Linked DNA regions of Homo sapiens: region 1 is linked to region 2. Evidence: fine-mapped expression QTL. A gene starts in region 2. The other region holds a variant in brackets. All regions are shown on one strand. Distances are from middle to middle.

Evidence for each region.
Region 1: its variant is fine-mapped to the expression of RETSAT in cerebral cortex (GTEx, PIP above 0.99).

Annotation. Positions count from the first base shown.
Region 1 is chr2:85,307,153-85,315,477 of GRCh38, forward strand. It overlaps TCF7L1 (transcription factor 7 like 1), which reads left to right. Exons shown (of 12, transcript NM_031283.3): 11 at 490-565; 12 at 1,877-3,235. The coding sequence ends at 2,310. Among named protein-coding and RNA genes, the nearest start is that of TGOLN2, 17 kb to the right of the region's middle. RefSeq lists enhancers at 2,484-3,367, 6,233-6,733. The variant G/A (reference allele first, on the strand shown) is at 3,684.
Region 2 is chr2:85,350,014-85,358,322 of GRCh38, forward strand. It overlaps RETSAT (retinol saturase), which reads right to left and starts at 4,515. Exons shown (of 11, transcript NM_017750.4): 1 at 4,323-4,515; 2 at 1,667-1,849; 3 at 767-1,008; 4 at 27-228. The coding sequence starts at 4,494. ELMOD3 (ELMO domain containing 3) reads left to right here and starts at 4,756. Exons shown (of 14, transcript NM_001135022.2): 1 at 4,756-4,816; 2 at 5,063-5,157; 3 at 5,542-5,585; 4 at 6,954-7,239. The coding sequence starts at 7,186. RefSeq lists enhancers at 4,517-5,018, 4,583-4,982, 5,019-5,518, 5,153-5,212.

The DNA of each region.
Region 1 (8,325 bases), 43 kb before region 2:
GAGTTGTCTCCAGCCACTCCTAACCCAGGGCTCAAAGACCAGTGTGTGAGCCTCAGGGGGCGTGTCTCTAAGCTCCCGGAAACCAAGCCAATTTTCGCATGCGTGTTCTTCTTTGCTTTTTTTCTGGTAAGAGGACCCACAGTTGCATCAAACTTTCAAAGGGACCTGGGACCCCTCAGAAAAGATCTAGAAGCACTGTTCTAGGGAGAGAAACAGAAAAACAGAGTCTGAAGGGCAGTGGAGGGAGGAGGCCTTCCAAGAAGGCCTGGACACCCGACCTGGAGGGGAAACGCGTTTGTAGGGGAGGAAGGGCTCCCTCTGCCTCCTCACGGGCTCCCACGGCTGTGATCTGAATTATCTCTCCACACTCTCCCTGAGGGATCGAGAGCAGTAAAGGGCAACGTCCTGTCTTCTCTCTGATCTGGGAGCCCCTGAGAAGCCAGCATTCTTCTCTCCCAGCTTACCTCTTCCTTTGGCTGTATTTTCCAGGGTAAGAAAAAGAAGAGGAAGAGAGAAAAGCAGCTGTCCCAGACACAGTCACAGCAGCAAGTCCAGGAGGCAGAGGGTGCGTCTCGGGGCACTGGCCTCTTCTCCTGCTTTTCCTTTTGTCACAGCCACACCTGCCCATGCTGTCTCTAGCTCCCTGATGGGTCAGGGCTTCTGCCTCGGTATTCGCGGGCGGGTATTATTACCCCTTTCTCGAGGTGGCCACTTAAGAGGCTCTGAGATGTGAAGGCATTTTCCCAGGCACTCTGCTTCAGTGGTGGTGGTAGGATTTGATCCCAGGACTTTGTCACTTCAAAGCCTAGACAATCTAATTCCATTGAAAAGTGAATCATCCTACCTGAGGGTTAATGGAATGAGGTTGAAATTGTCTTTGAAATACCCTTAGGAAGGCAGCACATGAGCCCCTGACATCCCACCTGTCAGTGGATCCAGGGGAGCCCGGGTTTCCTTGGATGTTTCTTTGGTTGAACACCAGAAAAAATTAGTTTGCTTGGGTTTAGGAGGCACTTTGTGTCAAAACCATGTATAAAATCTCTATATTACCAGAATCATGCCTAGCACAGAAAGATGCTCACACTGTGACGATTATTATTAATATTTAGGTCACGCCCCCCATCTCATGCTCACTCCAGGACAAGTGTATCGCTGCTTGCACGATGTAAAGTGCTTTCAATCTCTCTTCTTCATTCCTCCCTCCCTCCCTTTCTTCCTCCCTCCCTTTCACCTTCCCTCCCATTCTCCTTCCCTCCCTTTCCCCTTCCCTCCCTCCTTTTCTCCCTCCCTTTCTCTTTCCCTCCCTCTCTTTCCCTCCCTCTCCCCCTCCTTCCCTCCCTTCCCCCCCTCCCTTTCTTCTTCCCTCGCTTTCTCCTTCCGCCCTCCCTTTCTCCTTCCCTCCCTCCCTATTTCCTTGCCTCCCCTCCTCCCTTCCTTCCTTCCTTCCATTATACATAGGAGCGCACATGAGTGGAACCCGTACCTGCTACAGAACCCGCTGTCTGGCACGCTGTTCAGCAGGCATGCACTCTCTCTGACTGTATTAATACCATAAACCAAAGATTTCAAAGCAAACTGGAGATTCATCCCAAAAGTTACCAGCTTTAGGAAAGGAGGGTGGTCCTGTGAGACACTGAGCCGTCTTCTCTCCGATCTGATGCTGGGTGGATCTTCATCAGTTTGGGCGTTGCCTCTTCTCTGTGCTCTGGGTATTTGTGAATGCAGTTTCCTAGTCTTGAAAGCCTTGGAAGTAATGTCAGGTCCTCGCCAAAATCATCCCTGTGTCTCCAAAGCACATGTATCGCCAGGGCTGTTCCTCAGCCTCCTCCTCTCACAGAGCTATAGCTGCTCACTCTTTCTTGTATTTTCCCCCTAGGTGCCCTGGCCTCCAAGAGCAAGAAGCCATGTGTTCAGTACCTGCCCCCCGAGAAGCCCTGTGACAGCCCTGCCTCCTCCCACGGGAGCATGCTGGACTCCCCGGCCACTCCCTCTGCAGCTTTGGCCTCACCAGCTGCCCCTGCTGCCACCCATTCGGAGCAAGCCCAGCCCCTCTCCCTCACCACCAAACCAGAAACCCGGGCCCAGCTGGCTCTCCACTCTGCCGCCTTCCTGTCGGCTAAGGCTGCAGCCTCCTCCTCTGGGCAGATGGGCAGCCAGCCTCCCCTCCTGTCCCGGCCCCTCCCCCTTGGGTCCATGCCCACAGCTCTGCTGGCCTCTCCCCCGTCCTTCCCCGCCACGCTCCATGCCCACCAGGCCCTCCCGGTGCTACAGGCCCAGCCTCTTTCCCTGGTCACCAAGTCTGCCCACTAAGCTCCCCCCGACCCCTGCAGGCTGTCACATGACTCATTGAGTAGTAATGATTCAGAAGAAAAAGAAAAAGGAGACTTTATTGGTCAATATTTGACCACTCTGGACTGTTCTGTAAAGTGGCTGGTAACAACAGCACTTTACAGTTTGTAGATGTAACCAGTAGCTGATCTTAAGGCTTTTTTAAAAAACAAAACAAAACAACAAAAAAAAATCTTTATAAGAAAGAGAACTGAAAAGTAGCGTGCTATTCGTCCTGTAGGTGCTGTGGTGGATGGACCTGGGCAGAGGGCACTTCTCTCTCTTACCTCTCTTGCACTTTCTGTCTCCTGTCTCTTCTCGCCCCTGCCGCCTGCCCCAGCTTCCCCGACTCCATCTGCAGCTCTGCCATTGTGACATTTCCTGTTACCCAGCCCAAGTTTTCATCGTCTGCTCAATACCGTGGGTTCTTCTTCGTCCTCTGTCCTCTGCCCAGTGTGAGGCCATCACCATGTGAGAAGACATCTTGGCCTGATTTGCTGCCACCAGCGTCCCCTCCCTCAGTGGGCCCGAACTCGCCAGCCCCAGCTTTCAGTGGAGAAAGCGGTCCTCTGAAATGGTTTCCTCCCAACCCCCGCATTTAAAGGGACTCAAGGTGCCTGCCACTTCCTCAGCGAAGAAGTCTGTGTTCCTCCCCGTCCTTGCCAGTGGCGATCATCCCTTCACAATCCCAGAGTGGCAGGCGGGACCGGCCCCATGGTCTGGCTCCTGTCACCTGGGTCCGTGCCAGCACAATCTGCCAAAGTTCTAGAGACCCTGTTCCCTTCCCCATCACCTCACATGCTTCTTCTGTGTGTATTTCTTTTTGTTTTTATGGTTTTTGGAGCAATTTAAACTCCCAGTTGTTTATTTTCACAAAAGAAAATAAAATTGCAGTTGCAAGACCTTTTCTGAGTGTTTCTTTAGTGCTTTTGTTGAATCAAACCACCTGTTTGTTTCACTCCCAAACCCTGTGTTAGACTTTCGCAGATATGCAAAGGAAGATTGCCACTTGCCACAGGGGAATGTTAGGCATGCCTGACACCCTTAGAAAACCTGAACCCAGCTTCCTGTCTCAAATGTGCATGGGCCAGTCAGTGTCCATGACTGAGCTGCAAAGGGGGTAATCATTTTCACAGCTGATTTAAATGAATTTGCCGCCTGGAATGACATTCAGCTTATGCTTCTATCACCCATTTGACTCGTAATTGCCAAGATGTGAGGAAGCATCTTTTGGATACTTTCCATAGTATCTAGCACCACAATTAATTTTTTGTAACAGCTTTATGGAGATATACTTCAGCCATTTAAAGTTACACTTCACCCATTTAAAGTATACAGTTCAGCTGGGCAGAGCC[G/A]CTCTTGCCTATAATCCCAATGCTTTGAGAGGCTGAGGCAGGAAGATGACTTGAGGCCAGGAGTTCAGGACTAGCCTGGGCAACATAGCAAGACCTGATCTCTTTAAAAAAAAAAAAAAAAGCAACTAGCTGGGGATGGTGGCACACAAGCCTGTAGTCCCAGCTTCTCAGGAGGCTGAGGCAGGAGGATTGCTTGAGCTCAGGAGCTCAAGACTGCAGTGAGTTATGATTGTGCCACTGCATTCCAGCCTTCTCAACAGAGTAAGACTCTGCCTCAAACAAAAAAGGTATACAATTCAGGCTGGGTGCGATGGCTCACACCTGTAATCCTAGCACTTTGGGAGGCCGAGGCGGGTGGATCACCTGAGGTCAGGAGTTCGAGACCAGCCTGGCCAACATGGCGAAACCCCGTCTCTACTAAAAATACAAAAATTAGCCAGGCATGATGGTGCGCACCTGTAATCCCAGCTACTTGGGAGGCTGAGACAGGAGAATCGCTTAAACCCGGGAGGTGGAGGTTGCAGTGAGCCGAGACAGCGCCATTGCACTCCAGCCTGGGCAACAGAGCAAAACTTCATCTCAGAAAAGAAAAAAAAGTAGACAATTCATTGGCTGTATGTTCAGAGTTGTGCACCTATCACCAGTCAATTTTAGAAAGTTTTTGTCAGTCCCAAAGGAAGCCCCATATCCTTTGAAAATCACTCCACATTTTGCCCATCTCCCCCAGCCCTAGGCAACCACTAATCTACTTTCTGTCTCCAAACTTGTCTATTCTAGACATTTCATATACAGTCATGCATCGCTTAGCAACTGAGACAACGTTCTCACAAATGCGTCGTTGGGCAATTTTATTGTGTGAACATCATAGAGTGTAGTTAGAAAAACCTAGATGGTGTACACACCTAGGCTATATGGTATAGCCTATTGCTCCTAGGCTACAAGCCTGTACAGCATATGCTACTGTACTGAATACTGTAGGTGACTGTGACACAGTGGTGAGTGTTTATGTATCTAAACATAGAAAAGGTGGCTGGGCGTGGTGGCTCACGCCTGTAATCCCAGCACTTTGGGAGGCCGAGGCAGGTGGATCACTTGAGGTCAGGCAGGTGGATCACTTGAGGTCAGGAGTTCGAGACCAACCTGGCCAACATGTTGAAACCCCATCTCTACTAAAAATACAAAAATTAGCCAGGTGTGTGGCACATGCCTGTAATCCCAGCTACTTAGGAGGCTGAGGCACAAGAATCACTTGAACCCGGGAGGCAGAGTTTGCAGTAAGCCGAAAGCGCACCACTGCACTCCACCCTGGGCGACAGAGTGAGACTCTTTCTCAAAAAAAACAGAAACAAAACATAGAAAAGGTGCAGTAAAATCTGGTGTAAAAGATAAAAGATGGGCCGGGTGCAGTGGCTCAAGCCTGTAATCCCAGCACTTTGGGAGGCCGAGCAGGGTGGATCACCTGAGGTCAGGAGTTAGCGACCAGCCTGGCCAACATGATGAAACCCCGTCTCTACTAAAAATACAAAAAGTAACTGGGCGTGGTGGTGGGCGCCTGTAATCCCAGCTACTCAGGTGGCTGAGGCAGGAGAATTGCTTGAACCCAGGAGGCAGAGGTTGCGGTGAGCCGAGATCGCACCGTTGCACTCCAGCCTGGGCAACAAGATCAAAATTCTGTCTTGGGGAAAAAAAAAACAAAAAACAAGATAAAAGATGGCATAGCTGTATAGGGCATTTCCCAGGCATGGAGCTTGCAGGACTGGCAGCTGCTCTGGGTGCGTCAGTGAGTGGTGAGTAACCATGACGCTGTACACTTAGGCAACACTAGGTTTATAAAGAAATATTCTTCTTTCTTCAAGAATAAATTAACCTTAGTTTAACTTTTTTACTTTATCAACTTAAACACTTTTTGACTCTTGTAATAACACTTAGCTTAAAACGCAAATACACTGTACAGCTGCACAAAGATATTTTCTTTATATCCTTATTCTATGAGCTTTTTTCTAATTAAAGTCTTTTTTGGGGCTGGGTGCAGTAGCTTATGCCTGCTAATCTCAGCATTTTGGGAGGCCAAGGTGGGCAGATCACTTGAGATCAAGAGTTTGAGACCATGACCTCAAAACCCCAACTCTACTAAAAATATAAAAATTAGCCGGACACGGTGGCGGGCGCCTGTAATCCCAGCTACTAGGGAGGTTGAGGCAGGAGAATCTCTTGAACCCGGGAGGCGGAGGTTGCAGTGAGCTGAGATCATGCCACTGTACTCCAGCCTGGGCAGCAATGCGAGACTCCCTCTCAAAGAAAACAAAAACAAAAACATTTTTTTTTTTACTTCTTAAACTTTTTTGTTTAAAACAATAAAAATATAGCAAATACATAAACCAGTAACATAGTCATTTCGTTCATTAAAAAGTACTATAGGCCAGGCGCGGTGGTTCACGCCTGTAATCCCAACACATTGGGAGGCCGAGACGGGCAGATCACCTGAGGTCAGGAGTTCGAGACCAGCCTGGCCAACATGGTGAAACCTCTCTACTAAAAATACAAAACTTACCCGGGCATGGTGGCGGCCGCCTGTAGTCCCAGCTACTCGGGAGGCTGAGGCCAGAGAATCGCTTGAAGCCAGGAGGTGGAGGTTGCAGTGAGCCGAGATTGTGCCATTGCAACCCAGCCTGAGAGACAAGATCAAAACTCTGTCTCAAAAAAAAAAAATACTGCACATAATTCTGTGTGATAGACTTCTTTGTATGACTGGCAGTGCAGTGGGTGGCTCCACCAATGCCAGCCTCTCCTTCCCCTGCCCCATGTGGCTGGGTCTGCAGCCTGCTCGGCCTCCCCTCTCTCAGACCGGGGGAGCTGAGGGGGTGAGGTAGAGACGGCCCAGGGGCAGAGCAGGGGGGTCGGGCTTGGTGCACAGGCAGACTCTGCCTTTGCTACTTCCTGCCTCTCTCTCTGTGACCCTGACCTCCCTTCTCCCCTGTCCCAGGACCTCTGGGAACTGACACTGTCCTGGCCAGGCCCCAGCATCTCACCCAGGCAGCCCAGCTAGAGCCATCTGTCCCTCTTGCCCTCCATCTGTGTTCCTGTGTCTCTTCCTCCTGAACACAACCTGAGGGCCTCACAAATATTTAGTTACATGAACGAAGCAGGCCGGGCACGGTGACTCACGCCTTCAATCCCAGCACTTTGGGAGGACGAGGCAGGCAGATCACTTGAGGTCAGGAGTTTGAAAATAGCCTGGCCAACGTGGTGAAACCCCATCTCTACCGAAAATACAAACATTAGTGGGTGTGGTGGTACATGCCTGTAATCCCAGCTACTTGGGAGGCTGAGGCAGGAGAATCGCTTGAGCACGGGAGGCGGTTGCAGTGAACAGAGATCGCGCAACTGCATGCCAGCCTGGGCGACGGAGCAAGACTCCATCTAAAAATAAATAAATTTTTTAAAAAATGGAAAAAGCAGAGGAGCCAGGGACCCGGCATCCCTCTGGCACGGGAATGGGAAGACAGCAGAAGAATCTGTGGGGGCAGTTTCCGGAACACCGGTCTCAGGTCATCTGCTGAGGAGTGGGGAAGCCCAGCTGTTTAGGTCTGGGGAACATCAGGTGCCCCACAGTGGCTGTGGCCTCTGCCATAGTGTAGTTCTTCCCTCCTCCCTCCAGCTGAGTCCTGAGATGCCAAGTACCAGTCAGGCTGCCTGCCTTTGCTCACATGCATTGGCATCCCTCTGGAGGCCTTGTGTTCTGATGTCACACTAAGAATCATGCATGTTCACTCACTCCGTGACTGCATAAAAGTTCATCCTGAAATCAGGCTGGTAATGAGCTGCTGTTCATGTGTGGTCTTCATGGGGGGAACCCAGTCATGTGCTCCACACTTCAAGACACGAAGGGGAAGATGGGAGGCAGTAAGCTTGACCTTCCTGCAGGTGCTGAGCCAGCTCATGGGGGCTGAGGACCAGGGCTGGGCTTTACCTGCCTCTGAAGGGGCTTGGAGCAGAGGCAGGGGAGGTGGAAGAATAGGAACCTGGGGCAGTGTCCTTCCCAGGCAGGAGGACACAGAAGAGCAGGCCCCTGCCAACATCAAGTTGAAACAGCTGTAAAAGTGGCCTGGGCACAAAGCTGGCAACTGAAGATAAGGCTCAGGACACAGCGAGCGGTCACCCTGAGGCTCTCCTGGGAGCAGGGAGTGGCTGTCTCCGGCCATGGTCCACAAAGGCACCAACCACTCCCCTTTGCAGGTGTGAAGCAGCAGCTGGGGACAGTTCAGCCCGGCTTAGGCATGACCTCTGTTTTCATCTGCCTGCGAGGCACCAAGGAGGACCTGCATCTGCCGTCCACCAACTACTATGTTTACTATGACACGGACATGGACCAGGCGTAAGGTGCACGTGTGTGTGTGGCCCGTGCCTCCCTGCTTGACTCAGAGAACGAGCAGAAGTTATGGAATGGGAGGAAGTAGGCAATTTCCAATTTGCACCTGGAAGTTTGTCACACCAAGGCTGTGGCTCAGCTTCACCCCTGTGGGGAGTCCCTAGGGACGAGCAGTCCTTGCAGTGGTTCTGGGGTTTTGAGGACAAAAGCCTGGAGATCGCACCACACTCTTGTCACACGCAGGATGGAGCGCTACATCTCCATGCCCAGGGA
Region 2 (8,309 bases):
GCCCAGAGCCCAGGCCCAGTACCCACCGTAAGTGGGGAAGATGTAGCTGAGTACTGCCTGGAGCTCAGAGGAGGCCCCCAGCTGCTGCAGGACCTCAGCCAGGCTCTGGGTGGATGCTTGAAGGAATGGAGAGAAACGAGTCAGCAGCCCACACCTGTCGAGGAGCTGAACCACGGGCAATGGGAGGAATTTCAACAGGATGGCATGAGGGGCTCCACTGGATACCACCTGGGGGAGTGAATGAGGACAGCAGGCCTCACCTCTAGAACCGCTTTGACAGAACTGCTATCCCCATAGCCTGGACCAGCCCAAGAATCCAGCAACACTTACCCCTGACTGAACTTTGCTGAATTTGAATATTTTTAAAAAATCTATACTCTGTGAATTTTTCCCATCCTACACTCGGATGAGTCCTTTTTTTGCTTTTAATTTTCCTGCTCAAATTCCTTTTCAAAAATCCCAATCTGGTCTCGGATGCAGTAAAAAGGAGTAGTGATCTGATGTCATGGAAGCCAGCCTAGTCAGGGAGGAGAGCAGGGCATCCCCAGAGGCCAGGGTGACAGCAGCAGCCGTGGAGCCAAGGCTCCAGAGAGAGAGAGACAGAGAACTGGATGGACTTGGGTGGAGGCTGAGCTAAGAACAGATGTGACTCTTCCTCCCTTCCTGCCTCCCGCACTGCACTCTCCACCCCCAGTGCCTCCACTAATAATAAAGAAACCCAGCCTTATCGAGAACAAACTCTGGGTCCTCAGCATGTCCATGTTACCTTAACCAGCTTTATATACTTGTCAATGATAGCTTCCTCCTGTGGAAACTTCTCCTTGAGGCCCTGAATGTAGGCTTTCTCTCCACTGTACATGGGGTACTCCTTTCGGCCATTGGGCCCTTCCAGTACCATGATGTCAAAAGGAGAGGACAGGGGAGCCCAGTCCAGCTGCCCTTCAGTGATCTGGTCCAAGATAAAACGGCCAATGCTGCCCTCTTCCATACGCCCAATGTAATGGATTCCTGTTGGGAGATGGAAAAACAAGGTAGTAAAGGGATATGGGGATTGAGCCCTGGAAAGGTGGCTGAGGAAGTGAGGTGGAAGAGTTTATCTGGCCTGGCCAAGTTCACGCCCAGAGTGAGCTGCTCACTCTGTCTGTAGGGAGGTGTCACAGCAGAAACCGCCAGATCGCTGCCCGATTCAACTCCCAGTAGCTATGCTGTCACATAAGAAAACTGCCCAGAGGCTGGGCACGGTGGCTCACACCCATAATCCCAACACTTTGGGAGGCAGAGGGAGGTGGATCACTTGAGGTCAGGAGTTCGAGACCAGCCTGGACAACATGGAGAAACCCCATCTCTACTAAAATACAAAAAAATTAGCGGGGTGTGGTGGCCCACTTGGTGGGATTACTGAGTGTAATCCCAGCCACTCGGGAGACTGAGGCATGAGAATCACGAACTCAGGAGGCAGAGGTTACAGTAAGCTGGGATCACACCACTGCGCTCCAGCCTGGGTGATGAAGTGAGACTCTGTCTGAAACAAACAAAGAAAAAAAGTACCCAGAGAGAAGATGGCACTTCCAAAACAACAGAAATGCTCAGTATCACCCCACAAGGGCTGCTCCAAGCCTCTTCAACATACAGCCATGCTCCCAACCCTTTTCCACACAAGCCTTACCTGTGTCAAATTCAAGGCCATTCTTTCCAAAGGTATGACAGCAGCCCCCTGCCTTGGTATGTTGTTCCAGCACCAGGACTCGCTTGCCAGCTTTAGCTAGAATTGCAGCTGCAGCCAGGCCCCCAAAGCCACTGCCAATTACCACCACATCCAGCTTCTCCGGCACTTGGTTGGCTGAAAAAGCTACAGCAGAAGGGCCAAAGGGTGGGTTTCTCAGGCAGGGGCAGGGAAATAGCAAAGATAGGGAAACCAAAGAAGACTTCTCTAGCTTGTACAGTGCAAGAAACCTCTAGAGTGGTTTGGCACAGAACTCTTGACTAACATGTTTCAAACATTTTACCTGGGAATACTCAGAACCAGCCAGGCAGATTTGGGGTTTTGCTTATTTGTTTTTTGAGACAAGGTCTCACTATGGCCCAGGATGAAGTGCAGTGATGTGATCACAGCTCACTGCAGCCTTGAACTCCTGGCCTCAAGCAATCCTCCTGCCTCTGGTTCCCGAGTAGCTGGGACTACAGGTGCATGCCACCATGCCGGGCCATTTTATTTTTATTTTTATTTTTATGTGTTTAATTATTTTTTAAGACGGAGTCTCACTCTGTCACCCAGGCTGGAGTGCAGTGGCGCAATCTCCGCTTACTGCAAGCTCCGCCTCCTGGGTTCACATCATTCTCCTGCTTCAGCCTCCCGAGTAGCTGGGACTACAGGTGCCCACCACCACGCCCGGCTAATTTTTTTTTTTAATATTTTTTAGTAGAGATGGGGTTTCACCATGTTAGCCAGGATGGTCTCGATCTCCTGACCTCGTGATCCGCCTGCCTCGGCCTCCCAAAGTGCTGGGATTACATGCATGAGCCACCGCGCCCCGCCTATTTTATGTTTTATAGAGCCAAAGTCTTGCTATGTTGCCCAGGCTGATCTTGAACTCCTGGCCTCAAGTGATCCACCCACCTCGGCCTCCCAAATTGCTGGGATTACAGGCATGAGCCAACACACCAGCCCACAAGCCGGGTTTCTTTGGAAGATGCAGGGTCTGCAAGCAATAGTGGAATAGCTGGGTCTTATGGTGGCTCTTCCAGGTCCTGATGAAAAGGCTTGGGCAGGACAGAACTGCTCAGAGGCTGCAGCTCTGAGAAATCACAGCACCAGCCCCTCCCATAGGGAAGGTCTGGGGGCAGTGCTGAGGGAGGCAGCACCTTCTCAGAAGACAAAACTGGATAGCAAGTGGTGCTATATGGGTACTTCCGACACAAGATCTGTTCTTTAACAATCACTGGCAAAGAACTGAGATCTGGGATGTTTCAAGATACAAGAGAACTTGGCAAACTGCTTATTTTTTTAATGTTTTTAGAGAGATCAATAGTAAAAAAAAATTTCACATGTAAGTATATAAGATAAATACATGAAACAAGTGTCACAATGCAATACTTAGTGGAACTATGTATAATGCACTCTGATATTTTCTATTCTACTGCATTCTAAAATACTAGTTGTGGCCAGGCGTGATGGCTCACGCCTGTAATCCCAACACTTTGGGAGGCCGAGGTGGGCGGATCGCTTGAGGCCAGGAGTTCGAGAGCCTTGACAACATGGTGAAACCCTGTCTCTACTAAAAATACAAAAATTAGCTGGGCATGCCCACTACTCGGGAGGCTGAGGCAGGATAATCACTTGAACCCAGGAGGCGGAAGTTGCGGTGAGCGGAGATCGCGCCACTGCACTCTAGCATGGACAATAGAGCGAGACTCTGTTTCAATAAATAAATAAATAATGCCAGTTGCAACTCACTAAATTGATTTCATAGCCCACTAATAGATCACAATCCGGTTTGAAAAGCAGTTAAGCTAGTCATCTCATTTTTAGACCAGCCCAGGTAGGTGCTAATGGTTATGCAGCAAATTAGTGACAGAGTCCAAGCTAAAACTCAGTTCTCAGAAGTCCAGATGATTAGTCCTTCCACTTAGAACAGTACTGTCTCCGATTGTGTAGCAAGATATGACACGGAGAATTCTAAAATTTACAAGTGAGAGGGACTCCGTAGATCAAACAGGTGATCCATTATTTTTTAAAGCAGCAGAACTCTTTAAACTCTAGAAGCAACCACAAAATATGTTTTAAAGATGAGAGTGGAGAGCAGGCTCTGAGCCTGAGGCGCCTTGTTGAACCTCTGCCAATGTTTCAGAACTAGGGTTCAATCCTTACGATTTGGGACCATGCAAAGCCTGTTAAATCACCGGACGGGCAAAACGCAATTTCCTACGCATTTCTGTGCTGCTCCCCCACACCCCTGAGCTCGCATGGGAGGGTAGGTGAAAAAGTTAAGGTCCTGGAACCAAGTGGAGGAATGAGTCACGGGGATTATCAGTTCCACGAGCCACGGGGATTACAAGTGGCAGGGCGGGTGCCAACACCTTGCAAACCAAGGACAATGACCACACCCTTGGGACTACTATTCCCGGGGCCTACTAGGGCAAAGGCTATCGACAGTGTTGCACACTAAAGCGGGGCTCCTCCACGTGCAAGGAAGCCCTCCTAGTACTTTACATATGGGGAAACTAAGGCCCACGTCTGGTAGCGGCTGCCTTGGCAAAATGAGAACCCAAATCTGTGAGAAAGCCTCGAGTGCAGCCCCGGACCCCAGGGTCCCTCCTGCTACCTTGTTTGAGAACCTTCTTCCTGGCCTCCTTGTCAGTTACCAGGGGCGCTGGGGGCCGTTTGACATCTTCGGAGAAAGGATTCGGGGAGCTGCCAGAGAATAGTCCCAAGTAAACTTTGCAGAGGACGGCCAGCAGCAGCACAGCCAGGAGCAGCACCAGCGGAAGCCACATCACGCCGGCGTCGGGTCGGGTAAATGGGACAGCTCCGACTGCGCTCAGCCTCTAGGACTGTGGCTCCGCCCGGGCTAGTTCGCTCTCCAGTCAGGAGGCGGAGGCAGCTTTGAGCACTGATTAACCAGCCAGCCAGCGAAGAGCCAACTCTCAGGTGATGATTGACCCTCCCGGCTCTCCGTACTTCTTTTGGGTTTCCATTGCCTACTGGGAAATGTAGTTCTCGGGGCCAGGGGAGCCGGCACGGAAGCGGCTGTGCGCATGAGCAGATGAGGCCTAGCCGAGGCGGCGGGACCCCCAAGTTTGGAAAGCTCTTTTAACGGTGAGAACGCGTTAACACTTGCCAAGGGGAGTGGTTGGTGCCTGTGCGGAGCTAGCAGCCGGCCTGAGGAGGGAGGGAGAATGTGATCCGGTGGAAATTATCACTATGGGGCGAGACAAGGCCGAGAGTTGTAAGACTGAAAGAGAATCCCGACTGGGAGACAGGAGTCCTGAGTTCTGGTCCTGGCTCTGCCCTGGACTCGCTGCCTTGAGGTGTTAAATTGCTTTCCTCGTCTTACGCCTCCAGGCTATGCGAAAGTTCTGTCCAAAGGCTGCTCACAGCCCCTGTCTGACTGGTTGTCATGATGAATTGAGCTCTCTGTTACCTGCGCATCACAACCGGTGAGCGTCTGTCTCTGTGCCCCTCAAAGTGGCCCATAGTTTTGTCCTGGGGGCCCGCCTGGGACGGAGTCCTCTATGGCGGGTCCCTAATGACACCCCATCCGTGGGGAACCTGGGGGACGGGGAGCCGCCCATGGACAAGCATGGTGAAAGGATCAGCTAAGGGCCCATCTAATTTAAATTCCTATGCAGAGAATCTAACCTCCAGCAAGCAGTTGAAGAATCATACCCCCTCCTTGCCTAAAGAGGGTGCATAATGAATACTTGATTGGAGAAGGATCCATTTTTACAGGAAGGCCGTTTCCTTAGGTCCAACTATCAGGAATTTGCCTTTGAGTACTTCCTTGTTTAATGGAATTGTTGCTCTTTTCTTCTCTGCTACAGATAGTAACTGTCCCTACTGAAGGCCCCAGGAGTGCTCCAGCCAGGTGTGGAAAGCTGGTCACGATTCTATGCTACTTGGTTCATTTTCTACACAGCAACAGAAGAGCCCTCCTGAGATTGCTATTACCATACCCGCCTGTCACCTTGCCAAGGCTGGCCAATGTGTGTTTTGTCATAGGCTGTCATGGAGGCCATGATGGAGGAAAAGGAAAGGGGAGGCAGATGTTGAGGCCCCAGAGGCCACAGTGAGAGCAGTTTAGTTCCTGGGGTGCCAGGACTAAGGGGGCATTGCCCTGTCCCCCGGATTACAGTGAGCCACATGTCAAGCCCAAGAGCCAGGAGGTATTCTTCCTCTCAGTGTTAATAATCAAAGCATCCTGACACCAGCAGCCAGTTTTTATGGCATCCTGGAGGGCTGACCTCATAGAGAGGCTACCCTCCTTCCTTAGTCACCCAAAGTTGTGAACTATGATTGTCAGTTGTGTGTGGGCCATCTGCCCACTTAGGATGCAATTTTTGATGTGACAGACATTCCGGATGTCCAATTCCCCTGTGATGAGGTATGAGCCTTGTCCAGCCCTTTTCCTGAGGGAAGCAATGTCAGATGAAAGACTTAGAATTGCCCAAACTGGCTAGCCAGCTGCCACATGCACAGTATTGCTGATAACTGAGAAAGGTTAGAACATCGTGTTGCATTTTGAATTTCTACCATTGTTGGAACCAGGTCTAGTATTATAAGCCCCTGACCCAGCCTGTGTGTGAGGCCTAAACAAAGCCTGAGCACTTCAGCTAAGACCACCCACCAAGGTGACACCTTTAGCCTCACGCCTTTGATAAGCTGGCCCAGGTCCCAGTAACTCCATTGTCAGAAACAGACCCCATCCCTTCTAGTGGTGCTGCTGCCTTTTGGACACAGAATCCAGCTCACAGTCCCCTGTGTGGTCCCCTTTTGGCCATCCTGTGGCTTGGGTAGTAAGAGGTAAGCATTTGGCTGAGGCAAGTTGTTCATTCAGAATAAATTCACAGCTGCTTAAATTTTGTCAACAGGCCGAGCGTGTTGGCTCATGCCTGTAATCCCAGCACTTTGGAAGGCCGAGGCAGGCGGATCACGAGGTCAGGAGTTCAAGACCAGCCTAACCAACATAGTGAAACCCCATCTCTACTAAAAATACAAAAATTAGCAGGGTGTGGTGGCGCACGCCTGTAATTCCAGCTACTCGGGAGACTGGGACAGGAGAATCGCTTGAACCCGGGAGGCGGAGGTTGCAGTGAGCCGAGATCGCACGGCTGCACTCCAGCCTGGGCAACAGGGCAAGACTCCAACTCAAAAAAAAAAAAAAATTGTCAACAGAGGCATAACTGAATGGTGAAACCAGTTTTCTTTTTCAATTTCTTTTTTTTCTTTTGTGCAGAGCTGAGGCTTCGAAGACCTCAGAGGACTTCTCTCAGCACTCACAGAAACCTCCTACACCCTCGGATGGCACAAAGGGACTGTTTTCTTACTCTTAGTCTGAGTGACTGCCAAGGAAGGCAAAGGTAGAGCAACTGGATCTCTGGCTCTCCACATAGCTTCTGATCTCAGACCTTACTAAAATGCTTTCTGGGCCCAAGGACAAAGCTCACATGAACAAATGATTTTGAGTCATGAATGAAAAATCTTGCTCTTTCCATAGTAAAGAAGAATTAAGAGATGGACAGGTAAGCATGCACTCTTATTTGGGAAAGGTGGTGTTGGTTTGAGATATATCATTAAGTATAGTAAGAATATATTAAGAGAATATTTGGAAAAATTTAGAAACCCTCATTATAGTTCTCTTTGTTCTGTAAGAAGGAGCTTCTATTCACCTCAGGGTCAATTGCTTTTCCTAATAGCTTGTTTTGTAAGTGAGTTATGAGATTTTTGTTTTCTTTTTGCTTGGGTAGTGGGGAGAATTTCATTGAGGAATCACCCAAGAAATCTGTATTTCATTGATTTGGATCATTACCTTACTAGCCTCTTCCCTGTGAAACGCTTGCTTTGGCCTGATCATCCTCAGGACTCAGTTCAATGTGATATGTCTTTGTATGAGCCGGGCAGCTAACCCTACATGCCTTACCTTTCACACTACTTTGCCCACCCAAAAATGGTCTTAAATGGAGGCTGTGGGATTCAGTGGCCAGACTGGGACAAAGCCTTTGCTTTGGGTCTCCAGAAAGATTTTCTTCACTGTAGTAATATGCGAACTGTTCCAAAGAGGGAAGTCTTTGGACACTGGAGGGGACTGAATTGGAGAAGGAAAGGAAGGATGAAATGAATCTCAGGTACACAGATGCCTGCAGGAAGTTGTTCAGCACAATGAATCACCAAATATTTTAGAGATAAAATTTCAACAAAAATTTGAGAAATATATTTTGTGCTTAGTACTGTGCCAATGGTTGTGAAACATATAAAAGAAATATAAGAGCCTGGAGGCAGTGGCTCACGCCTGTAATCCCAACACTTTGGGAGGCTGAGGTGGGCAGATCACTTGAGGTCGGGAGTTGGAGACCAGCCTGGCTAACATGATGAAACCCTGTCTTTACTAAAAATACAAAATTATCTGGGCATGGTGGTGCATGCCTGTAATCCCAGCTACTCAGGAAGCTGAGGCAAGAGAATCGCTTGAACCCAGGAGGCGGAGGTTGCAGTGAGCTGGGATCACACCATTGCACTCCAGCCTGGGTGACCAAGTGAGACTCTGTCTCCAAAAAAAAAAAAAAAAAAAATGAAAAAAGAAATATAAGAGAAG